5 separate regions of the Homo sapiens genome follow, and all the other regions are linked to region 2. The links come from fine-mapping of genetic effects on gene expression. A gene starts in region 2. Each other region holds a variant in brackets. All regions are shown on one strand. Distances are from middle to middle.

Region 1 (6,545 bases), 170 kb after region 2:
AAAGGTTAAGGTTGTTGTATTTTTATTGTACTGGAGTATAATAAATATGTAAAATGTGTTTAAATGTTTCTTGTTGGTGCTGAAAATATACTTAGTAATGTAAAAATTTTCATGTTTCTTAGGTGGATGATTTTTATATTTAAAGCTTTTCAAACTAATGCTTGAAACCTGTTATCTAGAATTTAAGGGCTGTTGAAAACAGAGGTTATTTTTTACTTAATCATTCTTGTTATAATACTTAAGCTAGCAAAAGGAGGCTTTAGAAAAATGAGATAAGTGTTTGATGACTGTTTTCATGGTGAGTTGAATAACTTTGTACACACAGGGGCTTTTGAAAGCAACCACAGTAATACAAGATGAAGATTATATGTTACAAGTCTATGGAAAGCCAGTTTATCAGGGCCATCGAAGCACTCTTAAAAAAGGACCATATCTCAGATTTAATTCTCCATCTCCTAAGTCCAGACCACAGAGACCAAAAGTAATAGAACGAGTTAAAGGTAAGGAATCTCATTTTTAATGTTTAATCTCATTTCTTAATAGTATCAGTTTAATATGTAAAGTTTCTTTTTGCTTTTTATTTATTGCTTATACGTGCCATTCAAGTTATATGATGCTTGGGGATGGAAAAATAATTCCTCTTAGGAGAGGTAGGAAGAAATAGACCAACATTTTAAAAAAGACACAAGATAGGAATAATTGGGAAGAAATGTAGGATTAAATGGCATCTTCAGATAAAGCATCATAAAATTTTTATTTAGGAGAAAATGATTTTTTTTTTAATTTTTTTTTTAGACAAGGTCTCACCCTATCCCCCAGGCTGGAATGCAGTGGCACAATCATGGTTCACTGCAGCCTCGACCTACTGGGCTCAAGTGATCCTCCCCTCTCAGCCTCCCAAGTAGCTGGGATGACAGGTGCACACTACCACGCCTGGCTAATTTTTTTGTATGTTTTATAGAGACAGGGTTTCACCACATTGCCCACAGTGGGTGATGATGAATCTTGAGCATCTAAATTATAATCTAGGAAAGTAGACATTTTCCTGAAGACCTAGGTGCATTATGAACAGAAAGATCAGCCATTTGCTGTTTATTATAAAAGTGTTGATGAGCACTTTTGCAGTTTGGTTTTCAAAGAGACTTAGGTAGAAAGGTGAAAACTTTTTTGTTGCTTTTGTGCACAACTGAAAACATCTTCATGTATCACTGTGTATTTTGAGTCACATCTACTGTTTCACTGGTACTGTGTATTTAAATACAACTTTTGGTTATATACTGAGTCTGTTGACTTTGGTTATGTATTATAGTTTCTCAGCTTCTGCTTAGCAATCAGTAAGCTACAGCTGACAATATGTGATAACTAGTAGATACAAACCCATTTTCCTCTCTTATCCTTTCTAGAAGTTGGAGCTATGGTGGTTACTTTGGTTCCCTTTGCTTTCTAAAGGTTATGCAATCATATACAGTGTCAGGTTATATAGAAATTTTACTAATTTAAAATAGAAAGCATATAGCTTATGGGTGATATTTATCCTAATGGATGGTATTTACCCTGAAGTTTTCTCTTATTTAGTGTAGTTTTGCTTTTTTTTTTTTTTTTTTTGAGACGGAGTCTTGCTCTGTCATCCAGGCTGGAGTGCAGTGGCACAGTCTTGGCTCACTGCAACCTCCACCTCCCGGGTTCAAACGATTCTCCTGCCTCAGCCTCCCGAGTAGCTGGGATTACAGGCATGCGCCACAATGCCCAGCTAATTTTTTTTTTGTATTTTTAGTAGAGACAGGGTTTTGCCACATTGGCCAGGCTCGTCTTGAACTCCTGACCTCAGGTGATCCACCCGCCTCAGCCTCCCAGAGAGCTGGGATTACAGGCGTGAGCCACTGTGCCCGGCCTAGTGTAGCTTTGCTATTAATTTATATGGGGGGTTTTGAAAGTCTTTGCAAAAAATAATTTGAGGCTTTAAAATGCTTTCAAATCCAAAAATAACTTTATTCAATAACGCTTTTAATGATCAGAAGTGATTAAGAGCCTGTATTAGTTCATTTTCACACTGCTATAAAAAACTACCTGAGACTGAGTAATCTATAAAGACAAGAAGGTGTAATTGACTCACAGCTCCACATCTCTGGGGAGGCCTCAGAAAACTTAGAGTCATGGCGAAGGGAAGCAAGGCATGTCTTATATGGCAGCAGGAGAGAGGGAGCAAAGAAAGCCATGCCCTTTTAAAGCATCAGATCTCATGAGAACTCATTCACTATCACAAGAACAAATTAGGGGAAACTGCCCCCATGATCCAGTCATCTCCCACCAGGTCTCTCCCGTGACGCATGGGGATCAATTTGAGATGAGATTTGGGTAGGGACACAGAGCCAAGCCATATCAGAACCTAAGGACTTATGCTTATCCTAGGGCCTCAGTACCTGCCACTTCCTCTGTCTGGAGAGCTCTTCGTTCAGACACTTGCATGGTTCTCTCTCTCAATTCTTCCGTCTCCGCTCTTAGATGATAGCTCCTTAGAGTGCTCTACCCTGACCATTCTATTCAAAGAATTATCTCCTGTTCCTCTCCATCTCCTCACTCTGCCATATTGTTCTTCATGGCACTTCACATTTCCTGTGTTATATTTTTATTTGTTTGTTTTATTATTTATTTGTCACTACTGGACTGTAAGCTCCATGAGTACAGTTGGTTTAGTCACCTCTGTATTCCTTGTGCCAGAAACAATGTTTAACACATATTAAATGCTGAACAAACATTTTAAATAAACACTTAAGAAAAATATTCATTCAATAGAATGACTATCAGAGAACAAGATGAAAGAATATAGACATGGTATTACAATTTTTCTTCCTGGGGTCATAAACAAAAAGAAACTATATTTAAAAGTCTGGATGTGTAGGTTGGGCACAGTGGCTCATGCCTGTAATCCCAGCACTTTGGGAGGCTGAGGCAAGAGGATTGCTTGAGACCAGCCTCAGCAACATAGCTAGATCCTGTCTCTACAATAAATTAAAAAAATTAGCAGGGCATGCCTGTAGTCCCAGCTACTTGGGAGGCTGAGGTGGGAGGATCACTTCAGCACTTGAGCTTAGGAATTCAAGGTTGCAGTGAGCTATGATAGTGCCACTGCACTCCAGCCTGGGTAACTGAGCAAGACCCTGTCTCTAAAAAAAAAAAAATTAGATACATTAAAAAATTAGATACATAGAAACACCCACATGTGAAGTGGAAGTGTAGGTGACGGTCTGAGACATCACCACCAACCTGGGCACTGGGGAGATGGCCAAGACTGACCCCAAGACCTT[G/A]CAGGACCTCACCTCGGTGGTGTAGACACCCCTGCAGCAGATGCAAGATAAATTTCAGACTATGACCAGATAATTGGGAGAATTGATGATATGAGTAGTCACATTGATGATCTGGAGAAGAACATCACAGACCCCATGACACAGGCTGGGCTGGAAGAACTGGAAGGTGAAAACAAGATACCTGCCACACAAAAGAGTTGAGGGTTGCTAATAATTTATATAATGGAATCTGGAACATCATTTTTCTGAGCCAAGAGAAGACTGAATGGCTTTTTTCAGCTAACTACTGTGTGTAGACAGGTTTTATATTATAAAGTGTGCATTCTTATCACATACTATATAGTTAGTTTATAAAGGTTTATCCCCCAGTTTCTTGAATGTGGTATCTTCACATCTTGGACCTTGGTCAGTTGTACTATTAATTATTAAAAACTAAAACTTTGGCAGTTCCTGCATTTAAAAAAAAAAAAGCACCCACATGTTAAAAGTAAAAATGTAATGTCAGGAAATTATTAAGAAAATATTTTAGCCTCTTCCTTTGCCCGCTTACTTTATTCTTTACTTTTTTGTGTGTGTGTTCCATAGACATTTATTCACTTCTCCAAAGAGACATAAAGTCAAATTTTTAATATTTTAAGATTTAGGATATAATGGCTATATGTGTATGTATACATCATAGGAACAGAAAAAAATGTACAGCAGTCCCCCCTTATTCATGGGGGATGTGTCCCAATACCCTCAATGGATGCCTGAAACTGTGGATAGTACCAAGCCCTAACATGTACTATGTTCTTTTAATCTGATAACTGAGATGGTAACTAAGTTATTAATGGGCAGGTAGTGTCTACAGTGTAGAGACCCCAGACAAAGGGATGATTCATGTCCTGGGCAGGATGGAGCAGGACGGCATGAGATTTTATCGCGCTACTCAGAACAGCGTACATTGTAAAACTTATGACAGCCGGGCATGGTGGCATGCGTCTGTGGTCTTGGCTACTCGGGAGGCTAGGGTGGGAGGATCACTTGAGCCTGGGAGGCAGAGGTTGCATTGAGCTAAGATCGCACCACTGCACTCCAGCCTGGGTAGAGTGAGACTCCATCTAAAAAAAATTAATGAATAATTTTTAAATACTTATGAATTGTTTATTTCTCAAACTTTCCATTAATATTTTCCAGCCAAGGTTGATCCTGGGTAATTGAGACAGGGAAAGAGAAACCACAGATAAGGAGAGACTACTGTATAATGATATTAATTAGTAAGGTTTAAGTAAGTATAGAATTTGATTGTCTGTACATAATTTAAAAAGATAAAGCTGGTTATTCAGAATTATGTTGTGTGTAAAGGTGTAATGAGAAAATGAAAATCATCAATTCCAAAAATGATCATTAACTTTTTCGTACCTATGGAAAAAAATTTAAAGAATTCAAACATTGTTGGAATATTCTTCAGAATCTTTATTTAACATTTTTTTCTAGTTATTATATCTATTTTGTCACAGTAGCTGTACAAGTTGTATGTCTATTCAGGGGCTGGCAACTGTGGCCTACACGTGAGCTGCCTGTTTTTATAAAGTTTCATTTGCCTCTAACTGTGTTCATTCATGTATATATTGTCCATGGCTTCTTTCATGACACAACAGCAGAACTGAGTCATTACAGCTGAGATCACGTGGCCTGCCAGACAAATATTTACTGTCTGGCCATTTAAGAAGTTTGCTACCTCTGGTCTATATATTACTTCTGTTTTGGGGCCTTGTAACCTTATATAGAATTAAGATTTTTCTGTGAAGAGCTGTTGTATTTCTAGATGTCTGGATAGTAGATATTCTAACAATATTTTAAAATATCTGCCATTGGTGATTATTATAGGCACTAAGGTAAAGTCAATAAGAACACAGACTGACTTCTATGCAACAAAACCTAAGAAGATGGATTCTAAAATGAAACATTCTGTTCCTGTGTTACCTCATGGCGATCAGCAATATTTGTTCAGCCCAAGTAGAGAAATGCCTACTTTTTCAGGTACATTGGAAGGTCATCTGATTCCTATGGCAATTCTTTTAGGTAAGAATCAACAAAATATGTGGGATGGATTTTATTTTATTTATTTATTTGTTTGTTTGTGTGTTTATTAGAGACGGGGTTTCACTGTGTGGCTCAGAGTGGTCTGGAACTCCTGGACTCAAGCAGTCCACCCACCTCAACCTCTCAAAGTGCTGGGATTACAGGCGTGAGGCACCGTGCCCAGCCATTGAATTTTAAATTCTTATCAGCAGTAGCAGAACTTACAAAATGGTACTAACATGATAGTCATCTACCTTTTCTTGTAAATGTTATTTGTTTTTGTGGGGAAGGCCTCACAATGTATTTTATGCTGTGTAATAGCAATCTCTGAAATGATGGGTTCCTGCTGTAGTTTCACCAATAGGAAAAATTCTTTTGGTATGTTATATTATTGTAGATGAAATGAAATTTTAAACAATATTTTGGCTGGGCACAGTGGCTCATGCCTTTAATCACAGTACTTTGGGAAGCCGAGATGGGAGGATTGCTTGAGACCAAGAGTTTGAGACCAGCCTGGGCAACATAGCAAGACCTTGTCTCAAAAAAAAAAATTAGCTGGGCTTGATGGCTAACACCTGTAGTCCTAGCTACTCTGGAGGCTGAAGCAGGAGAATCCCTTCAGTCCAGGAGTTTGAGGCTGCAGTGAGCAATGATTATGCCACTGTACTCCAGCCTGGACAACACAGCAAGACCCTGTCTCTTAAAAAAGAAAGTTTAAATATGTCATGGACATTCATAATAATTCAATAAGTTTGATTATCTTGTTAATATCATTATGTCTTTGGGGAAGTATTAAGGTACTTTTTTTTGTACTTTTGAACTAGGCTATCATAAGTGAAAGCTGTGTGGGTGTGTAATCTAAGCCAATAGTTGTTTATTTACTTATTTGCCTTCTCTCTGAGTCTTCATGTTAAAAATTGAACAGATCATTTTTGTCCTCACACCAGCTGTTCAAGTCTAATTAGCTCTTTTTTCCCTTTAGTGTCATTGCTGTTCTTTTGTTTTGATTAACAATTTAAGTATGAATATTTTTTAATGTAAGAGACTTTTTTATTTTTGATATTATGGGTTAATTTCATGTCAACATAATAGCTCTCTGTTTAAACATATCTCCTAGTAATAAAATAGCTCACACTTTTAAAGTTCTTACTGTGTGCCCGGTACAGTTCTGAGCAC
Region 2 (6,545 bases):
TGTTGTATAAAATCCACTTTTTCTCGCACATCACAATCTGACCAAGAAATGGTTTGTTGTTGCAAAAAATAAGGGATAAGGACACTTCAAAACAATGACTTTTTTTTTCGGTCAGTTCATGAGGCACCCACTTATCGAGCTTTTTCACTTTTTAATTTGCTTCAAATGCTGAAGGACTGTAGAATGGTCCACATTGAGTTCTTCGGCAACATCTCAAGTAGCCTTAAGAGGATCAGCTTTGCTGATTGCTCTTAACCGGTAGTTATCAACTTCTGGCGACCAGCCACTACGCTCCTGATTTTCAAGACTTTCCTTCCCTTTGCAAAATTTCTTGAAACTGCCAGGCACAGCGGCTCAAGCCTGTAATCCCAGCACTTTGGGAGGCCAAGGCGGGCGGATCACGAGGTCAGGAGTTCGAGACCAGCCTGGGCCAAGATGGTGAAACTCCATCTCTACTAAAAATACAAAAATTAGCTGAGCATGGTGGTGCGTGCCTGTAATCCCAGCTACTGGGGAGGCTGAGGCAGAATGGCTTGAACCCAGGAGGCAGAGGTTGCAGTGAGCCAAGATCATGCCACTGCACTCTAGCCTGAAAGAGCAAGATTCCATCTCAAACAACAACAACAAAAAAACTTCTTGAATCACCACTGCACTGTAAGTTAACAGTTCCTGAACCATATGCATTGCTGATATGGTGTCTCTGTTGTTTTACAACCCATTTTTAACTCAAAAACGAAAACTGCTCGAATTTGCTTTTTTGTCTAACATCATTTTCATTGTCTAAAATACACATGAAGGCTGGGCACGTGGCTCATGCCCGTAATCCCACCACTTTACGAGGCCGAGGCAGGCAGATCATGAGGTCAGGAGATCGAGACCACCATGGCTAACATGGTGAAGCCCCTTGGCTCTATTAAAAATACAAAAAATTAGCTGGTGTGGTGGCACGCGCCTGTAGTCCCAGCTACTCGGGAGGCTGAGGCAGAAGAATTGCTTGAACCTGGGAGGCAGAGGTTGTAGTGAGCCGAGATGGTGCCACTGACTTCAGCCTGGCGACAGAGCGTGACTCTGTCTCAAAAATAAAATAAAATAAACATGAAATAAACAGAGAGTAATAAGTCATTACCAAAAGAACAAAGCGAGAAATGCCCATTAAAATGATGTATAACATAACCACATTTATTTAACAACGTAGTCCAACATCAAATGGCAAATTCCAATAATGCAAAAACCACGATTACTTTTGCAACGACCTTCTTAGACACAATATTTTGCAAAACATGTACAAGGATATTCACTGACATATTACTGCCATTATAGAAAAATAAACACGTTACATAAATTATGATATATTTATCCCACAAAACACTATGAAGACATAAAAGATGCTTTACGATAAGATATTTCCAATATTCCCAATGTTTTCTATAAAGAATAGACGGTAATGAACAACACTAGAATATTTGGTAAAACAAAACCAACAAAAAAGACAAAGCCTTTTGTATAATATATAACTATAGTGTAAACCGTAACTACCTTTTGGAGGAGGGAAGACATTTTTGTATTCTTCTTTGGGCTTTTTAATAATTTCCAAATGTCCATGCATTATTTGGATTCAATAATAACAGTTTAAACTTTGATCGTAGAATTATGGATGCTTACCCCCTAGAAAATTCAGTAATATATTGTTTTATAAGGTCTTTTAAAAAACTGCTTCACTCCTACGAGATTGCGCCACTGCACTCCAGCCTCGATGACAGAGAGAGACTCTGTCTCCAAAAAAAAAAAAAAAAAAAAAAAAAAAGCCTCACTCCTAAACACTCCCATTTACAAGATCTTTTCTATATAAGAACTTTTTAAATAGGCGGGTGGGGGGGAGGAAATCACAAAAATACGCATAATGTTTTATAACAAAAACATGAGGTATATCAAAGTCCAGAAATGAGAACCACGTAAATGGGTAAACAAGTCCATAAGGATGTCCTAATTTTGGGATTTCATTCTAAAATATTACACTAGAAAGCTAATTATACAGACTCATTTGAATCTGACCAAACAAAACATCTTTTAACTACCCTTCCTCCCATTCTGGTATTTCTTTACTAATCCATAGAAAGTTTTTCCAGGTAGTCCCCCGCAATTCTAAGGATTTTTAGACTTTATGACTCACCTCAGTAATCACTGAGATGTTCTGTTTTCTTCAGCACAACTGCCAAAAAACCCAGTAATTGTTAAGTCACACAATCATTTTCTAGTTATGGGCGCCACCAATATAGCAGTAGGGTTTAAAACAGAGGTATTGAGGGTAACTATTAGGATCTATCCAGTGTGACTAGGTCACTCACTAGAAATGCCAACATGCATTTCACGTTTTTATGAATACTTTTGAGCAAAATTACTGTTACGAATAAAAAACTGATTCTGCTCGGCTGTTTTCTTACTGAGAAAATTTAGTCCACGTGGATTACTGACGATATGTCACATTTTAAAAATTACTCCATTCTATAAAACTAGTCAATTTTATACTCCAATTCCGCTATTTAAAAATGTGTGTTTCGTTTAACAGAATATAAGATGTTAACAGAAAAAGATCAACGTCTATCTTATCGGGGACGTCCTTTTGTCTAAGATGTTTTCAGTCCCTGCAAAACCACTGTTTGCTTTCAAAAAGTAGCATAAGCCTCGTGCAGAGTGACAGACCCTTGTCTAAGGTCACAGAAGAAGCGTCTGCGCTGGCAAGTAAATTCCTCAGCATCCAGAAAGCCAGCGCTTTCTCCAGTTTCCTCATAGCTTTATCCCGTGAGGAGCACGCGGAAACCTCTACCCATGCAGGATGTTTCTAAGAACCACTTCTTCCCTGTCTTAACTAAGAAGGCTCCCACAGCTGGTGCCAATCAGGTGGAGAACATGGCAAGTCCCCGAAATGCACTTCCAAAGACAGGAAAGATTGCAGTGGGACAGAACCCAGAAAATCTCTCACATTCTCGAAAACCCGAAAGAGAACCTCCAAGAAAGACGTTTGCCTCTCCTCCACCTCTTTATCTCGGCGGGAGAGGAAGCCTCGCCCCCATTCATCCCGCCCCTTCTCCCCACCCCGCCGCAGGGAGAAGTTTACCATGGCTGCCTGCGGCCCCTTCACTTCCGGTGCCGGTGCCGCTAGGGCTGCGCCATCCCCCCAGTCAATCGGACAACCATAGCCTCCAACTGACCTTTCTGACAGCTCTGAGACTCCTCCGGCCACGACTAGGTGCTGTCCTGGAGGAAACGGTGGAGGACGGCCGCACAAAAACCAATCTACCTGATGAAAACTCCGTTCCCTTCTCGCCAGAAACATAAAATGCGATGGAGCTACGGCCACCGCTGCCGAGACAAAATGGCGCCGACAAGCTGGTTTAGCGCAAGCGCCTTGGACAGACCCTGCCCCGCCCCCGTGCAAGCCCCTGGCTGCAATTCTGGGTTCCGTTTCCATGGGACACTCCGCCGCCAATCCTCGTGTCGAACTGCTCTTCCTGACCCCTCAATTCACCAATCAGTGCCCAGTCAAGCACATCCGGAGTCGTCTCTACCAATCATTTCTCAGGACTTGCTTACTCAATAACCAACTCTCCAATAAAGTTGGTTTTCGGAAAAAGCCAATCATAAGTGGAAGATGTCCTACCTGCTGTTTTTCTCACCAATCCATGAAGTTTCACAGCTACATCCAATGAGGACGGCAGGTAGCGAGGTCCTATCCGAAGCTCTTCGGCGTCATGAGCAGCCAATAGGAGTTCGTGTAGAAGCGAGTCTGCTCAACAGCTTGTTATTTGGTGGATTGTGGCAGTAAATCGGGGCGAGTGGGGAACCCGGCGCAGGAACTGCAGCCGCGGCTGGGAGTGGTGCTGCCCGGACGGGGGCCCACGGAGGTCAGAGGGGAGGAGGACTCTGGAGCTGACAGCGCGCACTTCACCCGCAGTTGGTAGGTGGGGAGAGGGGAATCCGGGGATACTGAATGGACGAAGTGGCAGTAGCAGCAGCTGCTGCTGCCCGAGGTCCCGGTGCAGTTGGAAGCTTTGGAGGTGGGGAGAGGGATGCTAGGCAAGTGGCACGGCGAGCGCAAGGGAAGGGGCCAGCCATTGACCAGCGGCAGCAACTGCAGGAACCGCCGCCGCAGTTGCAGCCGCCTCCTCGTCCGCTTCCTCGGGTTCCCGGGAAAATGGCTGTGGGGCTGGCCGCGCCGCTAAGTTTGCTTCCGCGCGGTGAAGAGCGGGCTGCTTGGGGGAGCCGTCCCCCAACTCCGCGGCGCGTCCACCTCTGCGGAGTCCGTGGCAGGACTCGAGGGGCTACGAGCTGATACCTCTCTGGGCTGTACAAAAAGTTGAGGCGGGCGCTGGGAGGAGGCAGCGGCTGCTGCGGTGCGGCTCCCCTCCCCTCCCACACCCTGTCCGGGCCACCTCCCCTCCTCCTCCCCTCCGCCCCCCGCCCCCTCCCCCACGCGGGTCCCCCGGGGCTCTGGCGGCTCCCGGCTGAAGGCCGCGGCCCCTGCCCCTTTGGGTGAAGGAGCGCTTCTCCTTTCTGACATGGTGCAGAGCGAAGGAAGGAGAGCAATGGCGCCGTGACACTCCGCTGCCGCCACCGCGGGCCCGGGGCGGGCCGAGGGGGCCGAGCGGCGGAGGCGGGGCGCGGGCCGAAGTCGGGGTATCCGGGGGACCGCGGAGCGGAGGCTCGGCGGTCGTCTCCGCGGGGGACCTGGGGAAGCCCGAAGGGAGCTCTGGCCTTTTCCGGAGCTATCTGTCCTGGAGCTCCGAGTTGAGCATTCCGGGTCAAAGTGGCCAGCGAGGCGGGGGCGCGGTGGGCCGCTGGCGAGCTCCGGGGCGGAACGGGCTGCCCTTTGGCGCTCGTGGGGTTCTCGCTGCCCCCTCAGCTCCTGCGTCCTGGCTGCCCTCGTAAGGGGTCTTGTCCCTTGGCTGGTGAGGATTCTGCCCCTCCCCGCTGGCGTTTGTTTACTTTCTTTCCCTTGGTCGCTCCCCGCAGTTGACTGATTATGTCTGTGCCTGTCTTTCCCCCTCCCCATAGTTCTAGCGACTGCGAAGATAGCTCGCTGAGCTGGAACCCCACAGATCACCAACAAAAATGAAGGTAAGTGGAGTCAACTCTGCCCCGATCCTCGCGCCCTGAACACTGCCAATCCTAAGGCTAGTGCCGTGGAATGTCATTTGTTTTGCTACTCAAAATTGATGTTCCTACTGATCAGCAGTTTCGGCATAGGAGGATGTGTTGAATGGGTGAAAAATGATCTGTGTGTCTAAATGCGGAGTTTAGGCCCTCTCTGTAGCAGTACTTTGGAAAGGCTGGTGCAGCCTTTCAATTGTTGTCCATTCGGATAGTATTTTTAAACACTTCCTGTGTTGGCAGCAACCTTTGCAGAAGTAAAGCTTTTGTCCTGCTTTGGTTCTTTGGGGGATTTTTTGTAAATTTTTTTTCTTCCCGTGTGCCAATGCGATTTTCTAAAAGAAAGAATACGTGGATTAAGTAATGAAGGTATCATTTCTTCTGTGTGTAAAATGAACTTATGTGGCTAAAATATTTGAAGTTGAAGTATAATAATAGTTTTAGTTAAATCTTTCCAATAAGTATTTTAAAACATATACTAAAAAGATACATATTCTACTGAGGATGACTGCAAATATCAGTATGTGGATGGTTAAAGGGAAAGGATCTCATATAGCGTTCTTGAATGCTGTGGCCATTGAATGTTTCAGGTCAGATTTTTGTTTGCCAAAAGCATTCCTATTCAATTTGTATTTTTTGTAAATGCACTTACTTTAAAAGGTACCCAATTCCTGTCTTATTTACTGTTTCAGCATATTAAGCTCTGAAATATAGCATTTTCCCAAACTTTCTCGTGGTTTTCTATTTTCTCGAAGTAAATGACATATTTAACCTTCTTTAATATTACTTGGGAAAACTTATTAGAAAACAAAAAATCATTTTCTACTTCAAAACGTATCTCCAAAGTGTACACTGTTAACTTTGCACTTAACAATGTTAAGTTGAACTTGTATGGATACACTTTAACTTCCGGAAAAAAAAAAAAAAGGTAAAATGACAGATTGAGATAGCAATCATCCTGTTACTGTAAAAATTAAAATGAGTGGTAGAGTGACATTTCTTACATCTTTCTATGTATCATTCTGGTCGTGTCCATTTGCTGAAAGTAGATGTTTCTTAGTAACGCTTATTTTTTTATACTAAGAAGATTAGTGTGGTAAACTAGGTATACCTACAAGTCTGGAGCCATCAGTTCATATCTGCATTCATCGGCTGAATTCAGACTTAAAACCTTTCAAGTGCAGCTTTTAGCAAATGAATTTTCCAAATGATACTTTCCTTATGAAAAGATGTTACCTTTATGTGGCTATGTCAATAAACAATTATGTATTGTTAGTGTTAATATTAGTAGCAATATTTCTTTTAATTTGAAAAATTTCAGGAAGCTATAAATGAATAACTTAGTTTTATGATATGTGTAATATGAAATATTTTTTCTGTTTTTTTCTTATCTTTCT
Region 3 (6,545 bases), 21 kb after region 2:
ATTTCAAAGTGATTATTGAAATTTTTGAATTGTTGAAATTCAAAAATTGCTGAAATATTTTGTTTAAAATGTTGAAATTGTTGAAATTTTTCATCAGAACATTTTGGTTTAGGGCTGCCATTGATTAATGATAAAACATTATAGAAAATATTTTGTTATATAAATTTTGGAGTGTTGGTCTTACATTCACATTTTCCTTTTTCATACCTCCATTTAAATGTGTGTGTGTGTCTAGTATCGTCATCTTTGGTATTGTAGGCATTAAGAAAAGTTGAAAACCTTTCAGGTTTTATTCTTTTTGAAATCTTATACTTACAGATACTAATACTAACAAGAATTATATTGTTTGGTTTGTGATAATTTAATGATTTAAAAACTTTAAGAGAACAGTGGTTAATTTTTTAGACTTGACACTATATGAATCATAGTTTTTATATCAAATATTTAGCACCCTATTACTCAAGTGCAGATCAGTGATGTAATCATTGGAGGATGTTGTGTTTTAACCTGTCATTGTGCCTGCAGCTAGTCATTAATTTCTGGATCATTGACTGTGTATAGCACAGCTGCTTTTTTAGAATCATGGTTCTTTGAGTATGTGCTTCGGGAGTTTTTAATTTTTTCCACATTGTCTCCTGCATGTAAAAGAATCTAAGCTAGGTATCTGTAGTCTAAGAGGGAGAACTGATTGAAGTAAATAAATATTTAACATGTTGAAAGCTTTTATATAATTTTCTTTCAAAAAACTTATTCATTAAAGGTAAGCGTAGGATTTGAAGGCAAAGTGTTTGCTAATAAAACAACCTTTTCAGAAAATAATTCAGGATTATAATTTCATAGGTAACCAATTAAAAAATTCTAAGATATCAAATGAATGTAATGTAGAATTTCTTTTTGTTAACACTGACTTATTCTGTTAGAATGGAAAAAAGTATCTAGAATTGTGAAAATTAGTACTAAATCTTGATAATTGTTTTTGGGTACATATGTATGCTTTCTTGTTAAGTGAATATGGATGTTAAGTGTCTGAAGTAAAGATTATATCTTATTTTATTCATAACCTGGGGCAATGAGGTACCTTCTGAGAGCATTTTCTTTTTAATAAACTATAAATGTTGGATGCTAAAATCAGAATACAGTCTCAAAAGTTAAACCTATACAATTATCAAAATAATATATTGTTAGTGATTAGGAGAATATTAGGGATAAATTGTAAAATTCCTTACCCCATTTCCTTGAAATGTTTAAATATAGTCAAGTAGTACGATTTTGTTTGTTTGTTTGTTTTAGACGAAGTTTTGCTCTTGTTGTCCAGGCTGGAGTGCAATGGCGCAATCTCTGCTCACTGCAACCTCTGCCTGCCGGGTTCAAGAGATTCTCCTGCCTCAGCCTCCCGAGTAGCTGAGATTACAGGCGTGTGCCACCATGCCTGGCTAATTTTGTATTTTTAGTGGAGACAGGGTTTCTCCATGTTGGTCAGGCAGGTCTCGAACTCCCGACCTCAGGTGGTCCGCCCGCCTCGGCCTCCCAAAGTGCTGAGATTACAGGCGGGAGTCACCGCGCCCGGCCAAGTAGTATGATTTTTTAAAATATGTACTAAAGGCCAGGCGCGGTGCTCACGCCTGTAATCCCAGCACTTTGGGAGGCTGAGGCAGGTGAATCACAAGGTCGGGAGATGGAGACCATCCTGGCTAACATGGTGAAACCCCATCTCTACTAAAAATACAAAAATATTAGCCGGGCGTGGTGACGTGTGCCTGTAGTCCCAGCTACTGGGGAGGCTGAGGCGGGAGAATGGCGTGAACCCGGGAGGCGGAGCTTGCAGTGAGCTGAGATCGCGCCACTGCACTCCAGCCTGGGGGACAGAGTGAGACTCAGTCTCAAAAAAAAAAAAAAAAGTAGTAAAAGCAAAAAATTTGAGAAAGCATCTATGTAATTATGATTTTTTTTAAAGTTTCTTTCTTTCTTTCTTCTTTTTTATTTTTTTTTTTTGGGACGGAGTCTTGCTCTGTCGTAGAGGCTGGAGTGCAGTGGTGCAATCTCGGCTCACTGCAAGCTCCGCCTCCTGGGTTCACGCCATTCTCCCGCCTCAGCCTCCCGAGTAGCTGGGACTACAGGCGCCCGCCACCACGTCTGGCTAATTTTTTTTGTATTTTTAGTAGAGACGGGGTTTCACCGTGTTAGCCAGGATGGTCTCGATTTCCTGACCTGACCTCGTGATCCGCCCACCTCGCCTCCCAAAGTGCTGGGATTACAGACGTGAGCCACCGCGCCTGGCCTAAAGTTTCTTTTTAAAAAAACCTTTATATTTGTCTTTTTTTTTTTTTTTTTTTTTTTTGAGACAGAATCTTGGTTTTGCTGTCACCCAGTGGCACAATCATGGCTCACTAACCATGGTTGAGCCTTGGTTTTTCGCGGCTCAAGCAATCGTTCCACCATGGCCTCTCCAGTAGCTGGGACCACAGGCATGAGCCACCACGCCTGCCCTACAAACTTTTATCTTTCTGTTTCCTTATTTCAACCTTTATTTCTAAACTTCTCAGCTGGGTACAGTGGTTGATGCCTGTAATCCGAGCACTTTCGGAGGCTTAGGCGGGAGGATAATTTGAGGCCAGGAGTTTGAGACCAACCTGGGTAAAATAGCAAAATCCTGTCTTTATTAAAAAAAAAAAAAGTTTTTTTAAACAGACTACTTACATCCTTTTCTAACAAAAGAAAGAACTTGTATCTTATGACTTTAGAATTTGGCAGCTGGTACATGTGTAGTAGGTTATCATGCAAATAAATAGAAGCAGTAGAATAATTCAATAGCAATACCAGGAGTCAGTTTCTGGAAGTTAGGGGTACTCTAATATTAAACTTTTGTGGAAAAATCCATAATACTTTTTTTAATCAGGTTTTTGTTCATTCTTCTAGGATTGCAGTTAATTTAATATTTATGCTTTGACTAGGTTGCTAATGAGTTAAGAAGGTGGTTCTGTAGTGATAGAAATCAAAAAAGCAGATGGAAATACTTAAGCAGTCGTGGGCAGCCATTTAACCTGTGTTTTTGGTATCTGTAGAATGAAAAATATGGCATGGTATGCTCATTGTAAAGGTTTTGAAAAATGACTAAAATAATGGTTCTTACAAATATTAAGCTCTAATTAATAGCAATAATAGCATTCTGTGCTTTTAAGTTTTTATTTCATTAGTGTGCATAAATTCTCTGTTATCTTTTGCTTATTATAGTGTTTGATGATGGTGATGAGCGAACATTGAGACGTACCTCACTTTGTCTGAAAGGAGAGAGACATTTTGCAGAGAGTGAGGTAGGGTGACACGGATGGACGATTTGGATTGAACTACAGGTACTGATCTAGAGGTAAAACGTAATTTAATTAATCTATTTCTTATACAGACACTTGACCAGCTTCCATTAACAAATCCAGAGCATTTTGGAACTCCAGTAATTGCAAAGAAGACGAACAGAGGAAGGAGATCTTCTCTTCCTGTGTGAGTTTTTTCATATATGGTATCATTTTAATTACAATTATTATAACCTTAAACAAGGGATTTTGTTAGGATGGCTAAATTCATTTGGGTAAGCTTTCCATAGCATATTGTATCCTTATGTTAGACATTTTACCCTGAGTGGACCTTGTTCTTAATTATTCCCAATATTTGCCCAGGAATGATAACAACTCTTACTTCTAATAGATTATTTTTGTTTTAAGTTACTTTGCCGAAGTTTTTTTTGTTTTGTTTTGTTTTTGATTTTGTTTTTTGAGACGGAGTCTCGCTCTGTTGCCCAGGCTGGAGTGCAGTGGTGCAATCTCGGCTCACTGCAACCTCCGCCTCCTGGGTTCAAGCAATTCTCCTGCTTCAGCCTCCTGAGAAGCTGGGACTACAGGCATGTGCCACCACACCCAG[C/T]TAATTTTTTTTTTTTTTGTATTTTTAGTAGAGATGGGGTTTCACCATATTGGCCAGGCTGGTCTCGAACTCCTGACCTCGTGATCCACCTGCTTCAGTCTCCCAAAGTGCTAGGATTACAGGCGTGAGCCACCACACCCAGCCTGAGCCACTGCGCCAGGCCCAAAGTTTTTAATTGATATGATGATTTTTCTATTTTAAGTGAGTATATGTTTTTTATCTTTTACTTCAAAAACATTTCAAACTTAAAGATTGCAAGAATAATACACGAATATCTGTGTATGAATGTCTATATACTCTTTTTTTTTTTTTTTTTTTTTTTTTTTTTTTTTTTTTTTGGTGAGATGGAGTTTGTCTGTGCCACCAAGGCTGGAGTGCAGTGGCATGATCTTGGCTCACTGCAACTTTTGCCTCCCAGGTTCGGTGATTCTCCTGCCTCAGCCTCCTGAGTAGTTGGGATTACAGACACACCATCACGCCTGGCTAGTTTTTGTATTCTTAATAGAGATGAGGTTTCGCTTTGTTGGCCAAATGGGTTTCGAACTCCTGACGTCAAGTGATTTGCCCGCCTTGGCCTCTCAAAGTGCTGACTGGGATTATAGATATGAGCCACTGCACCTGGCCTAATGTCTATATACTCTTTATCTAGATTTACCAGTTCTTAACATTTTTCACACATTTGCTTTACGATTCCCTCTCTATATATATACTAATTTTTTTCTTTTCTTTTTTTTTTTTTTTTTTGAGACGGAGTATCACTCTGTCGCCAGGCTGGAGTGCAGTGGTGCAATCTCAGCTTATTGCAGCCTCTGCCTCCCAGGTTCAAACGATTCTCCTGCCTCAGCCTCCCGAGTAGTCAGAACTACAGGCGCGTGCCACCACGCCCAGCTAATTTTTCTATTTTTAGTAGAGACAGGGTTTCACCATGTTGGCCAGGATGATCTCGATCTCTTGACCTCATGATCCACCTGCCTCAGCCTCCCAAAGTGTTGGGATTACAGGCGTGAGCCACCACACCCGGCCTATACTAATTATTTTTATATTTTGTAATAATTTTATTTTTCTGAACTATTTGAGAGGAAGTGGCAAGCATCATGATCCTTTATCATTAAATATTTAGGAACAAGGAGATGTTCTTACATAACCAAAGTATGAATACCAAATTTAGAAAATTTAACGCTGATAGACTACTATCATAATATATGGTTAATATTTCAAACTTTGTCAGTTGTTCCAATAATAGCCTTTATAGCGTCCCCCAGTTCCCCTGATTACAGGATCCAATTCAGGATCATGCATTGCATATAGTTTATATGGTTCTTGAGTCTCCTTTAATCTAAAAAAATTCTGTAGCCTTTTTTCTTCCATGACATTGACTTTTTTTTTTTTTTTTTTTTTCCCCTGAGACGGAGTCTCGCTCTGTCACCCAGGCTGGAGTGCAGTGGCTGGATCTCGGCTCACTGCAAGCTCCACCTCCTGGGTTCTTGCCATTCTCCTGCCTCAGCCTCCCGAGTAGCTGGGACTACAGTCGTCCACCACGACGCCTGGCTAATTTTTTGTATTTTTAGTAGAGACGGGATTTCACTGTGTTAGCCAGGATGGTCTCGATCTCCTGACCTCGTGATCTGCCCGCCTCGGCCTCCCAAAGTGTTGGGATTACAGGCATGAGCCACCACGCCCAGCCGATGACATTGACGTTTTTGAAGAATACAAGACAATAGTCTTGTAACCTGTTCCCTAATATGTTGGATTGTTTTCTCATTGTTAGATTCAGGTTATATATTATACTCCATAAGTGATGTTGTGTCCTGAAGGAAAGCACAGCAAGAAGTATTATCAGTTTGTCCCATATCTGGTGATACTAACTTTGATTAAGGTGGTGCCTGCCAAATTTCTAAACTTCAGAATTACTATAGTTACCGTTTTTCCCCTTTGTAAAATCTGTGTGGAGATACTTTGAGACTATTTAAATATTCTAGTCTCTGTCAAACTTTGATTCACAAATTTTATCATGTACTAATAATTCTTGCCTGAATCAGTTAGTACTATTATGATAGCAAAATGCTGATTTTTCTAATTTTTCATTCTTGCTACATTTTTTGGTTATCGCTTAGCTATAATGAAATTCTTTTCCTAACGCTATGGATTCTAATTTTACTTAATGGGTTACAATTCAGGTTGTTCCAGATTTAGCCAAGGGAGCCTGGGAGCCTTTCCAGGATGGCTTCTGTGTTCTTTTGATATGGCCTCACCATTTCTTGAGCACTTTTTCACCTTCTGGCATGACAAGGTATCCTAGGCTCATGTTAATTTTTTCCTGCGCCAACCCTGGAATTGGCCATTTCTACAAGGGTCCCTCATTTATTTTAGTGGGAATTAATATTTAGAAACCAAGATCCTGGTATTAGATATGTACTCACTGCTGCTGGGGAGTATATAATGAGTATTTTTAAAGGCAAAGTCAGATAACACCTAAGCTGCAAACCAGAAAATAATAAAAGACCTCCGAGGACCCTAAATGGAAATCCCAACTCAGCCATATACTAGATATATCACTTTGGGAAAATTACTTAACCTCTTTAAAGTTAACTACATTTATGTACATTAAATCTTCACAAAAACCTGCAAGATAT
Region 4 (6,545 bases), 49 kb after region 2:
GAATTGCTTGAACCCAGGAGGCAGAGGCTGCAGTGAGCCGAGGTCGTGCCATTACACTCCAGCCTAGGCAGCAAGAGCAAAACTCCATCTCAAAAAAAAAAAAGACAAAAATCTGAGCTCTTCTTTTAGAACAGAGGAGAGTAATACTCTAAGTTATGATCATTTATATGGAGGAAACATATCAGTGTTTTGTTTTTCTCTAGTAGTGCTAAACTTTAAGAATTTTAAAAGAAGCTAAATCAGTAATTATGTATCTAGTTTCCTTCCCTAAGAATTACTTCTGGAATTATTTTGTTATCTTATTTTTAGGTGTTGCAAAGTCAAGTACAGGGGCCATACTAGAAAGGCAAAAGAGAAAACCAGGTTATTGTGAGATGAGGGGGTGATGAGGTCTGGGGTAAAATAGAATGTATATGACTCACTTAAATGTATTTAAATATCTTTAAAACATTGTGCCATCTAAACAGAAATCCTTTGCCACTGTGACTTTGCAATCCCTGGTTTATATTCATCTGGCAATAACAAAAACTATGTTTATATGAAAATTATTTTTATATATAAATATATGATATAATGAACATGTGTCATTATTGTGCTCATCTGCCAGTATATTTGTGTGGGCCACATAGTATTTAAATGGGCTTTAAAAAAAATATATCAGGTGAGGTGAAAACGTAACACTCCCATTTTATTCCTGAATGTTTTCCTCTTGGCTAATCTTAGTCCTTACAGTGATACTGAAAAGTAGAGTTAGAGTGGTAAATGGAGTGAAGGGTAGACATTGTATATCTTCATAAATATGACTTAAAATCTGTCATTGTAGGATATTGAGAAAATTCAGATTTTTCAGCTTTATTAAAATTTGATGACTTTACATTGGGTTCACAAAAATAAAAGAAGACATGTATCTTTTCCAGTTCACTGTGCCATACATTTATATATTTTATCTTTACAGCCTGAGGAAGAACTTGATCCTGAAGAGAGGGACAACTTCCTCCAGCAGCTTTATAAGTTTATGGAAGACAGAGGTATTTTCATGCTCATTATTTTAAAGTAGTCATTTCTTTTTCATGTTTACATTCTAGGTATATGCATTGTTTTTGTTAGTATTGCAGATAAACAGTTTTGGATTTTATTTATTTATTTATTTTGAGGCAGGTTCTTGCTTTGATGCCCAGGCTGGAGTGCAGTGATTTGCTCCTGGCTTACTGCAGCCTTGACCTCCTGGGCTCAAGTGATCCTCCTGCCTCAGCCTCTCGAGTAGCTGGGACTACAGGCACGTGCCACCATACCCAGCTAATTTTTTATTTTTCTATTTTTTGTAGAGACGGGTTTTGCCATATTGCCGAGGCTGGTCTCAAACTCCTGGCCTCAAGTGATCCTCTTACCTCTGCCTCCCAAAGTGCTGAGATTACAGCTGTGAACCATCATGACTGTCTAGTTTTGGATTTTAAATAAATCCTAGAATCAGTTACACCTGACAGTAGTAAAATATTTGGAATTAAACTGTTCATACCTATTTTACATAGAAACAAGTGAGAAAATATTTTGATACAATTTAGTTTTCCCTGTCACTTACAAAGCTAAAGAATATTCTGATATTTCAGAAATAGAAAGTGACCAGTTATGTTAATCTGCATACCCACTAATTACTAATGCTATATTTGTGGCAAATAAACTAGATAAACTAGCCTGATCCTTGTTCTCAGCAAATTAAACATAATAGGAGACCAATCGTTATCTGAAAAAGATGAGATTTCTAATATAGGTAGAATAATAGAACAATTATAAACCATCATACTCCTTGCCATTTGTTAGTCCTAGAAAATCTTAAGATAAATTGGTCCTAAACATTCTGTGTGGCCTTCAGAAATCATCCTTCAGATTACTGCTAACAGTCTTAACATTTGTGTCAAAGTAGTGAAAGTGGAACCAGGGTATAAATCTTATCTTTTCTGTTGTGTTTGTTTATGCCTAAACTTTTTTTTTTTTTTTTTTTTTTTTTTTTTGTGACAGAGTCTTACTCTGTCACTCAAGCTGGAGTGCGGTGGCGTGAACATGGCTCCCTCCAGCCTCCACTTCCTGGGCTTAAGCAGTCCTCCCACCTCAGGCTCCCAAGTACCTGGGACCACAGGTGCACACCACCACACTCAGCTAATGTTTTCCTTTTAATTTTTGTAGAGACAGGATATCACCATGTTGCCCAGGCTGGTCTCAAACTCCTGAGCCCAAGTGATCTTCCTGCCTTAGCCTCCCAAAGTGCTGGGGTTACAGGTGTGAGCCACTGCACCCAGCCCTATGCCCAAGCGTCTTGAACCAGCAACATTGTTGGCCACACCATGCAGTGTTTACTTTAGTTTTACTCAATTCATTGGCAGTTAAAGAGGTAGCTTTATTAGTATAACACCTAAAATCTGAAGATCCCCACAAAGCTATATAAATAAGAGAGAATTATTATATATATTATTATATATAAAACATATAAAAAAGAATTATTATATATAAAACAACACAAGAGAATTATCTTGTGTTGTTTTACATTGTTTAAGGCTCTTTAAATATGTGCCTCTAATTAATGAAATTGGGGAAATTAGAAATTGACCGCTTTGTTTTCAAATTAGTATTTCTCATTTGAATAAACATTTTATTTCTACCTACTTACATTGAAAAGGTACTCCAATCAACAAACCACCTGTTTTGGGCTATAAAGATCTCAATCTCTTCAAACTCTTCAGACTGGTTTATCATCAGGGTGGATGTGACAATGTAAGTATAACATTGCTTTTTGAAACATGTATTGATGTGGTAAAAAGTTAAGTTATCTTATATTGCATTATTATATGCACATTGGATAATAAATACATTTTCTTAATGAACATAGAATATTAGGATAAAGATCTTTTCCTGGCCAGGCACGGTGGCTCACGCCTGTAATCCCAGCATTTTGGGAGATTGAGGCGGGTGGATTGCTTAAGCTCAGGAATTCAAGACTAGCCTGGGCAACATGGCGAAACCCCATCTCTACAGAAAATACAAAAATTAGCCAGGCATGGTGT[C/T]GCATGCCTGTGGTCCCAACTACTCGGGAAGCTGAGGTGGGAGGATCACTTGAGCCCAGGAGGTCGAGGCTGCAGTGAGCCCTGATTGCACCACTGCTCTCCAGCCTGGGCGACAGAGTGAGACCCTGTCTCAAAAAAAAAAAAAAAAAAAAAAAAAAAAAAAAAAAAAAAAAAAAAAGATTAATTCCCTTTGCAAATGTTAACATAAAAACTTAATTTTCCAGATTGATAGTGGTGCTGTATGGAAGCAAATTTATATGGACCTTGGCATTCCTATTTTGAATTCAGCTGCTTCCTACAATGTAAAAACTGCTTATAGAAAGTAAGTAGTATAGTTTATTCATCAAAGAATATATATTTATAGGAAATATTTTCCATTTACTTTGTTAACAAGAATACATCAATCTAGAAACATTAAAGTTAGAGAAAGTATATAAAAAGGTTTAGGTTGACAGATACTTGTGATTGAAAGTTATTTCAGCGCATCTAATCTGCTTTACTCCATTTCTTATGTTGTCCTGATTTCCTTTCCAAAATCAGGATGCAGGTAGTGTCTGCGATTATGATACATATTACAGAGCTACATCTTTTGGGGTGAACAGCCTTCATATCAAAACTTATGATAGTTATGTTTAGCTATCACAAGCTCAGACGTCTCAGGACGGCATTTTATGATCAGTTTTTCTGTTTATGATTCTATCTAAAACACCAAGAAAATAGTAACACAGAAAAGAGTAACAAAAATTTTTTTAAATTACTGGGCTTTACTTTTTAAAAATGTGTTTAATAACATGAATTCAAGTTAGATGCAAAGACTGTAAGATTTCTTAAATGAAATATTGTTTGTTTAGGTATCTCTATGGTTTTGAGGAGTACTGCCGTTCGGCAAATATTCAGTTCAGAACTGTTCATCACCATGAACCAAAAGTAAAAGAGGAAAAAAAAGACTTAGAAGAATCAATGGAAGAGGCTCTCAAATTAGATCAAGAAATGCCTTTAACAGAAGTGAAGAGTGAACCTGAGGAAAATATCGATTCAAACAGTGAAAGTGAAAGAGAAGAGATAGAATTAAAATCTCCGAGGGTGAGTTCTTAATACTAGTTTTATCTGGTTTAAGTATTATTTAAAATTTTTTATTATAGCCATTTTCATATATACACAAAAGTACTACAGTGAACCTAGTTTATTTTCCAGTATTTAATGCTGCTTAGCTAGCTACTTTTTTCGAAATATATTGTATATTATTTCCTCTACCTGAAAACCCTTCCTTCTGTTTTCTGTTTATATTCGATCAAGTCATTCTTGTCTGGGATGAATCCCAGATATTCCTTTTCCAGTCTTCTGCTAAAGTATCACCTCATTGAAGGCTGTCTTGGTCACCTTATCTGAAATTGTAACCTGCCTCCTCTCTTTGGAACTCTCAGTCCCTCTGATGTTGTTCTTTCTGTAATTTACTTATTTATTCTGTTTATTGTGATTATCTATTTTGCCCCACTCTACACTAGAATCACACTCCACGAGGTCAGGGATTAGTGTTTATTTCGTTTATTGACAGATGCCACGCATTTAGAATAGTGCCTGGCACATAATAAAGGCTTATTAAATAGATGTTGAATAAATGAATCACCTCTTTATAGTGCCTGTGCCCTAAACTAGATGATATCTTGTCTTTGTAACTTTATAGCACACTGTGTAGCTCTAGTGATGCGTACATGTATGCTGGTTGTATCTTCCAACTTTGCTCCTTCTTTCCTTTAATATATAAGGTCTATTTAGGAATTGTCATCTAGCATTTGGATCAGTGTCCAGTGATGTTACATAGTAGGATTTATCAAATTTTAGAAAGAGAAAGGAATTTACCACACTATCAAAGAAGTTTAATTACTATGTCTTATTTTTTGGTGGAATCATATTTAATGAAAGAGAATGTGAAATTGCTTTGTCTTATAGTTCAGAAACCAGTTTTCAAAACTTCCTTCATGTAGTAAATGGAATCTTCTAGTGAATGTCATGAAATTTCCAAATTGTTTTTTTTTAATTTTTTTTAAAATTGTGGTAAGTACATATAACATAAAATTTGCCACCTTAACTCTTTTTAAGTGTACACTTCATTGGCATTAAGTACATTCTCACCGTTGCATAAGTGTCACCACCGTCCAGTTCCAGAATATTTTTACCTTGCAAACCTGAAATTCTGTACCCATTAAACAGTAACTCCTCATTCCTCCCCAACCCTTAGCAATCAAAGTTTTACTTTCTGTACCTATGAATTTGATATTCTAGGTACTTTTATATAAGTGAAATCATACAGTGTTTGTCCTTTTTTACTGGCTTATTCACTCACCATAATGTCTGTAAGACATTATGTTGTAGCACATATCAGAATTTCCTTCCTTTTTAAAGGTGAATAATATTTTATTGTATGTATTGTGGACATACTTTCTTTTCATTACCTAAAAACCTTCCTCATCCTACATAAAATATCTGCAGTGTGCTGTCTAGTATGGATGAACCATAAATCTACCTTCTCCAAGATTTTCTCCCAGTTTTTTACTATTTTAAAAAGTGCTGCCGGGCGCGGTGGCTCATGCCTGTAATCCCAGCACTTTGGGAGGCCAAGGCAGGTGGATCTCGAGATCAGGAGATCGAGACCAGCCTCGCCAATATGGTGAAACCCCATCTCTACTAAAAATACAAAAAAAAAAAAAAGTGCTATAATACATTTGCTTGTAAAAATATCCTCATCACTTATCCACATATATAAGCCAGGCTTCTAAAAATGGCATTTCTCACCTGTAGTCCCAGCTACTCAGGACGCTGAGGCAGGAGAAGTGCTTGAACCCAGGAGGCAGAGGTTGCAGCAAGCTGAGATCGCACCACTGCACTCTAGCCTGGTCGATAGAGCGAGACTCCATCTCAAAAAAATGAATAAATAAATAAAAACAGTATTTCTGGGACAAAGGTATACAGACCCAAATTTTATAGCAGTTGTTTTCATTCATTTACCTATAGATATTTTAAAAGCACCTGCTAGGCCGGGCACGGTGGCTCACGCCTGTAATCTCAGCACTTTGGTAGGCCGAGGCGGGCGGATCACGAGGTCAAGAGATCAAGACCATCCTGGCCAACGTGGTGAAACCCTGTCTCTACTAAAAATACAAAAATTAGCTGGGCATGGTGGTGCGCGCCTGTAGTCCCAGCTACTCAGGAGGCTGAGAATCGCTTGAACCTGGGAGGTAGAGGTTGCAGTGAGCTGAGATCACACCACTGCTCTCCAGCCTGGCAACAGAGCGAGACTCTGTCTTAAAAAAAAAAAAAAAAAAAAAAAAAGCACCTGCCACCTGCTATGTGCCAGCCACTGTGTAGATCTGAGGAGATGGAAGTGCCATCTTGGAACTTGTGTGTTAGTGCTTTAAGATAGAAAGAAATTAATTTCTTCTTTTTCTGCCTTTGAAGTGTAAATAGCACATAGCCAGCAACTAGGGAAAA
Region 5 (6,261 bases), 42 kb before region 2:
TTGTTTAATCTTGACAACCCAGTGAAGGTTATATCAATGTCATTTTCTTTTTTTTTTTTTTTTGGTTTGAGACAGAGTCTGGCTCTGTCACCCAGGCCGGAGTGCAGTGGCGCCATCTCAGCTTATTGCAGCCTCTGCCTCCTGGGTTCAAGCGATTCTCCTACCTCAGCCTCCCAAGTAGCTGGGACTACAGGTGCCCACTACCATGCCCAGCTAATTTTTATATTTTTAGTAAAGGCAGGGTTTCACCATGTTGGCCAGGCTGGTCTCGAACTCCTGACCTCAAGTGATCCATCTGCCCGCCTCAGCCTCCCAAAGTGCTGGGATTATAGGCGTGAGCCACTGCGCCCGGCCTAATGCCATTTTCACAGGTGAAAAAACAGATGCACAGCAAGTAAAGAAAAGCTGGGATTCAAACTTGGGTCTGCATGTTACTCAAGAGCCCTTTCTAAATGAAAAGACACCTTATATGACCCACATCGTTCAGCTGATAGCTTTCTTATATCTAAATGAGATTTAATGTTACACACAAACACAAAAAGTACTGGTAAAGTATAACCAGTAAACCATAAAGCTAATTTTTTTCTTCTTCAAAGATTATTTTATCTCAACAATATGTTTCTCCTGAACAGATTTTTTTATTTTGCTGCAAATGACAGGATTTTATTTTATTTTTTGAGATGGAGTCTCACTCTGTCATCCAGGAAGGAGTGCAATGGCGCGATCTCAGCTCACTGCAACCTCTGCCTCCCGGGTTCAAGCAATTCTCCTGCCTCAGACTCTCAAGTAGCTGGGATTACAGACATACGCCGCCACACCCAGCTAATTTTTGTATTTTTAGTAGAGACGGGGTTTCACCATGTTGGTCAGGCTGGTCTCGGACTCCTGAACTCCAGTGATCTACCCGCCTTGGCCTCCCAAAGTGCTGGGATTATAGGCGTGAGCCAGCGTGCCCAGCCTAGCATTTTATTCTTTTTAAAGGATGAATAGTATTCCATTGTGTATATATACATTTTCTTTTTACTGTTTTTTTGTTGTTGTTGTTGTACAGATTTTTCTCGTCACCCAGGTACTAAGCCTAGGACCCAATAGTTATTTTTTCTGATCCTCTTCCTCCTCCCACCCTCCACCCTCAAGTAGGCCCCATTGTCTGTTGTTCCTGTCTTTGTATCCATGAATTCTCATCATTTAGCTTCCACTTATAAGAGAGAACATGTGGTTTTTGGTTTTCTCTTCTTGTATTAGTTTGCTAAGAATAATGCTGAACAGATTTATTATTGCCAGTGAAACTGATATGTTTTGATGAAACTTGCTACATTGTAACCTAGCTAGTAGGAGGTGATCTTGTATTCTTTTATGTACTAGCAAAAGTTAATATTTTGAAAAAAATTATGCATGCATATATATATGTATGTACACACACACAGAGGTCTTGCTCTGTTGCCCAGGCTTGAGTGCAGTGGCATGATCATAGCTCACTGCAGCCTTGCGCTCCTGGGCTCAAGTGATTCTTCTGCCTCAGCCTCCCAAATAGCTGTGACTACAAGTGTGCCATCACACCTGGCTAATTTTTTAGTTTTTTTAAGAGATATGATCTTGCTGTGTTGCTCAGGCTGGTCTTGAACTCCTGGGCTCAAGCGATCCTCCCGCCTCAGCTTCTTGAGTTGCTGAGATTACAGGCATGAGCCAATGTGCCCTGTCAACATTAGACATTGAAGAGGGCTGGAGAAAATTAAGACTTAATATCCTCCCTCCTTCCACAGTTGTCATCTTCAAGTGATTTGAGAATTATATGACTTTACAGTAAGCTTTCTCTAAAGCAACAGAAGATTCTTTAAGTGATGTAACTTACTGGCATGGGTTACCTTGGGGAAGCTATTCTAAACACGCGTTTCCTTGTCTGCAAAACAAGAGTGATAATAGTACTTGGCACATACAGTTGTTGTGAGGTTAAAAATTATTATGCAAAATGCTTAACATGTAATGAGTGCTCAGTATCTCTTAGTAATTATCATTATTACTATTACTGGGTAGCGTAGGAAAAAAAGGCTATTAAAGATTGTGATACCACTTTTAAATTCTGTAACTGTCCTGGGCTAGAGGGTTTCAAAAACTTGGTTGGTTTATGGTACCTTAAGTGTCTCAGTAGTTTTTCTCATGGCTTCCCTAGGCCGAAAATACCTAATGGTTTCATTTATTAAGTATTTAGATCCAAAGAACTTAGTGTTTACATCCTAAAAACTTAGTAGCCGTTTTTTTTTTTTAAATACACACATAGTGAAAAATATTTTTATTTAAAAATTAAAATGTTTTATTTTAAGCAACCAAAATTTCTAGTATATACACTGCACAACCTCCCAAATTTGGATGTGGCCACTGTCATTTCCTGTTCCACACTGATTTTTGCACAGTACTTACTTTTTTTCACAGCAACCACTAACAGCCAAGCTTCTCAAAGATGTGGTGGCATTGAAAGGAATGTAGTAAAACGATCTAATGTTCAAACGGAACTACTTGGACATTTTTCTCCAAACTTAGAATGTGCCACACTAGGCCAGGTGCAGTGGCTCACACCTGTAATCCCAGCACTTTCGGAGGCCAAGGCGGGCGGATCACCTGAGGTCGAAAGTTCAAGACCAGCCTGACCAACATGGAGAAACCCTGTCTCTACTAAAAACACAAAAATTAGCCGGGCGTGGTGGCGCATGCCTGTACTCCCAGCTACTCGGGAGGCTGAGGCAGGAGAATCCCTTGAACCTGGGAGGTGGAGGTTGC[G/A]GTGAGCCGCGATTGCACCACTGTGCTCTAGCCTGGGCAACAAGAGCAAAACTCCATCTCAAAAAAAAAGATATGCCACACTAACATGTGATTTCACTGCAGTGCCTGAGGACCTCTCGGCACATACATAGTAACTGCAATTCTGTTTTTGTTTTTGTTTTTGTTTTGAGACAAAGTCTCATTCTGTTGCTCAGGCTGGAGTGTAGTGGCGTGATCTCGGCTCACTGCAGCCTCCGCCTCCCGAGTTCAAGTGATTCTTGTGGCTCAGCCTTGGGAGTAGGTAGGATTATAGGTGCCCGCCACCAAACCTGACTAATTTTTGTATTTTTAGTAGGGGTTTCACCATGTTGTCCAGGCTGGTTTCAAACTCCTGACCTCAGGTGATCCCCCTGCCTCGGCCTCCCAAAGTGCTGGGATCACAGGCATGAGCCACCGTGCCCGGCCTAGTAACTGCAGTTCTAAGCCGCAAATCTTGAAAGAGGAATGGTTTATCATTGTAGTTTATTCAGCCAATAGGCTGAAAAAAGATTTGCGATTGTGCCTTTTAGAACAAAACAGTTACAGGTTGAGTATCTCTCGTCTAAAATGCTTGGGACCAGCAGTATATCGGATATTTTTCGATTTTGGAATATCTGCATTATATACTCATCAGCTGAGCATCCTTAATCTGAAAATTCAAAATCCAAAAAGCTCTACTGAGCATTTCCTTTTTTTTTTTTTTTTGAGATGGAGTCTCGCTCTGTTGCCCAGGATGGAGTGCAGTGGCGCGATCTCGGCTCACTGCAACTTCCGCCTCCCAGGTTCAAGCAATTCTCTGCCTCGGCCTCCCAAGTAACTGGGATTACAGGTGCCTGCAACCACGCCTGGCTAATTTTTGTATTTTTAGTAGAGACGGCATTTCACCATCTTGGCCAGGCTGGTCTTGAACTCGTGACCTTGTGATCCACCTGCCTCAGCCTCCCAAAGTGCTGGGATTACAGGTGTGAGCCACCAGGTCCGGCCTGAGCATTTCCTTTGAGTGTCATGTTGGCACTCAAAAAGTTTCAGATTCTGAAGCGTTTTAAATTTCAGATTTTTGGATTAGATATCCTCAACCTGTAATAACTTTAGAGAAAAGAACAAATTTGGGCCGGGCACGGCGGCTCACACCCATAATCCCAACATTTTGGGAGGCTGAGGCAGGCTGATCACCTGAGGTCAGGAGTTCAAGACCAGCCTGGCCAACATGACAAAACCAAACCCTGTCTCTACTAAAAATATAAAAATTAGCCAATCCCAGCTACTGGGGAGGCTGAGGCAGGAGAATCCCTTGAACCTGAGAGGCAAAGGTTGAAGTGAGCCCAGATGGTGCCATTGTGCTCCAGCCTAGGTGACACAGTGAGACTCTGTCTCAAAAAAAAAAAAAAAAAAAAATCTGACCAAGACCCATGGTTTTTATTCGTTATAATGAGGTAGTGGTAGTAAATCAGGGGAAGAGGATTTATGATAGAAGTAGTCCTGAATATTGGCCGGGCACGGTGGCTCACGCCTGTAATCCCAGCACTTTAGGAGGCTGAGGCAGGCAGATCACGAGGTCAGGAGATCAAGACCGTCCTGGCTGACATGGTGAAACCCCATCTCTACTAAAAATACAAAAAAATTAGCCGGGCGTGGTGGCAGGCGCCTGTAGTCCCAGCTACTCAGGAGGCTGAGGCAGGAGAATGGCATGAACCCAGGAGGCAGAGTGTGAAGTGAGCGGAGATCATGCCACTGTACTCCAGCCCTGGTGACAGAGCGAGACCCCGTATCAAAAAAAAAAAAGGAAATGTCCTGAATATGAACATTGGACAAAGCAATGAAGTTATACTTACTAAATTTCTAAATTATAATTTCATACTCAAGCATCAAAATGCCTTGTAGAGAGACCTTTAAGCCAAAAAAGTTTATTTTGAATGGTAATACTTGTTAAAAAAATGTTTAATAAGTCTTTATTAATTGCAGACTTTGATTTGTGATAGGAATGTGTTCCTCTAGTAAATTGGTGCTTTTTTTTCAGGCAGTAGCAGGTTTGTTGGCAGATGCTCGTTCTTTAGCAGACATAGCAAGAGAAGAAGCTTCCAACTTCAGATCTAACTTTGGCTACAACATTCCACTAAAAGTAAGTTGATAACATATTGAGGAACCTTTTGGACAGTAATAGAAGTTTATTAATAAGCTCTTCTGCTTCCCTCCATAGCATCTTGCAGACAGAGTGGCCATGTATGTGCATGCATATACACTCTACAGTGCTGTTAGACCTTTTGGCTGCAGGTAAGAAATTTTGTGAATTATTCAAAAGGCAGATCTGTACTATAGATATTTATTATGTTCCCCAGCATCTTAGCCTTTTACATACTTAAAAATAGAAACTCGTCGATAAGTATTAGGGCAATGATTAAATAAAACAGTGTACATAGAAACTACTTGAGGCTGGGTGCCATGGCTCAAGCCTGTAATCCCAGTACTTTGGGAGGTTGAGGTGGGAGGATCCCTCGCGCCCAGGAGTATGAGACCAGCCTGGCCAACGCAGTGAGAACCTATCTCTACAAAAAAAATTTAAAATTTAGCCAGGTGCAGTATCACATGCCTGTAGTCACAGCTACTTAGGAGCTGCTTGAGAGGATCATTTGAGCCCAGGAGTTGAAGGCTGGAATGAGCTGTGGCCATACCACTGTACTCTAGCTGGCGCAATAGAGACTCTGCCTCTTTAAAAAAAAAAAAAAAAAAAAAAAAAAGGTTTCAATAGTGAAAAGGACTATATAGATCTGAAGTGATTATAAAACAAGGAACTGATAACAATGACTTTAATCTGATTATAATAAGCTCTCGGTGTTAGTCCCTGATATTCTTAGGTAATTTTAAAAATTACGTCTCACAATTCCCATTAGGCACGGTTTCTCTTTCTGTTGAAGTGCTGATATTTTATTGTGGGGTAAAGTGGAGATTCAGCTGCATAAAGACCTGGAATAGGTATAAATATTCAAATTTGGCTTCACAGAGAAGACTTGTGACTAGATTTTTCTAAAATGAAAAGACATGTTTGGCTTATGACTTAAAACAGTCAAACATGTTTGGTCAAAATAATACATATACTAACATCTGAGTGCTCAGCTGTAGTCCTACCTTTGAGTTGTTTATCATCAGTCATATTTAATTACTAAGATATTAAAGAAAACTTGAGTTTTATTCTATTGGTAATATTACATTAGGGTTTTGTTTTTACTTTTTGAGACAGTTACTGTCACCTGAGCTGGAGTGCAGTGGTGCCATCATGGCTGACTGCAGCTTTGACCTGGCTCAAGCGATGCTCCTACCTCAGCCTCCCAAGTAGCTGGGACCACAGGCATGGGCCACCATGCCTGGCTAATTAACAAAATTTTTTTTTGTAGAGACGGGGTCTCACCATGCTGCCCAGGCTGACATTAGTCATTCTTAAGCTTCTCAGTTAAATTACATTATGAAACACTT

Evidence for each region. PIP is the estimated chance that this variant, and not a neighbour inherited with it, causes the effect.
Region 1: its variant is the best candidate, but not a certain one, in a credible set for the expression of PSMA3-AS1 in subcutaneous fat (GTEx, PIP 0.55).
Region 3: its variant is the best candidate, but not a certain one, in a credible set for the expression of PSMA3-AS1 in whole blood (INTERVAL, PIP 0.53).
Region 4: its variant is the best candidate, but not a certain one, in a credible set for the expression of PSMA3-AS1 in lung (TOPMed, PIP 0.74).
Region 5: its variant is the best candidate, but not a certain one, in a credible set for the expression of PSMA3-AS1 in blood mononuclear cells (TOPMed, PIP 0.59).

What each region holds. Positions count from the first base shown.
Region 1 is chr14:58,460,661-58,467,205 of GRCh38, forward strand. KIAA0586 reads left to right here. Exons shown (of 31, transcript NM_001329943.3): 14 at 326-500; 15 at 5,175-5,369. It also overlaps the pseudogene HSBP1P1. Among named protein-coding and RNA genes, the nearest start is that of KIAA0586, 36 kb to the left of the region's middle. The variant G/A (reference allele first, on the strand shown) is at 3,306.
Region 2 is chr14:58,294,746-58,301,290 of GRCh38, forward strand. It overlaps PSMA3-AS1 (PSMA3 antisense RNA 1), which reads right to left and starts at 3,392. Exons shown (of 4, transcript NR_029435.1): 1 at 3,210-3,392. ARID4A (AT-rich interaction domain 4A) reads left to right here and starts at 3,810. Exons shown (of 24, transcript NM_002892.4): 1 at 3,810-3,955; 2 at 5,053-5,115. The coding sequence starts at 5,110. RefSeq lists enhancers at 3,040-3,763, 3,060-3,479, 3,500-3,549, 3,660-3,749 and a silencer at 4,380-4,899.
Region 3 is chr14:58,315,311-58,321,855 of GRCh38, forward strand. It overlaps ARID4A (AT-rich interaction domain 4A), which reads left to right. Exons shown (of 24, transcript NM_002892.4): 6 at 3,232-3,311; 7 at 3,401-3,495. Among named protein-coding and RNA genes, the nearest start is that of ARID4A, 20 kb to the left of the region's middle. The variant C/T (reference allele first, on the strand shown) is at 3,913.
Region 4 is chr14:58,343,740-58,350,284 of GRCh38, forward strand. ARID4A (AT-rich interaction domain 4A) reads left to right here. Exons shown (of 24, transcript NM_002892.4): 12 at 956-1,028; 13 at 2,672-2,766; 14 at 3,281-3,378; 15 at 3,908-4,139. Among named protein-coding and RNA genes, the nearest start is that of ARID4A, 48 kb to the left of the region's middle. The variant C/T (reference allele first, on the strand shown) is at 3,057.
Region 5 is chr14:58,252,935-58,259,195 of GRCh38, forward strand. PSMA3 (proteasome 20S subunit alpha 3) reads left to right here. Exons shown (of 11, transcript NM_002788.4): 4 at 4,811-4,912; 5 at 4,991-5,064. Among named protein-coding and RNA genes, the nearest start is that of PSMA3, 11 kb to the left of the region's middle. The variant G/A (reference allele first, on the strand shown) is at 2,776.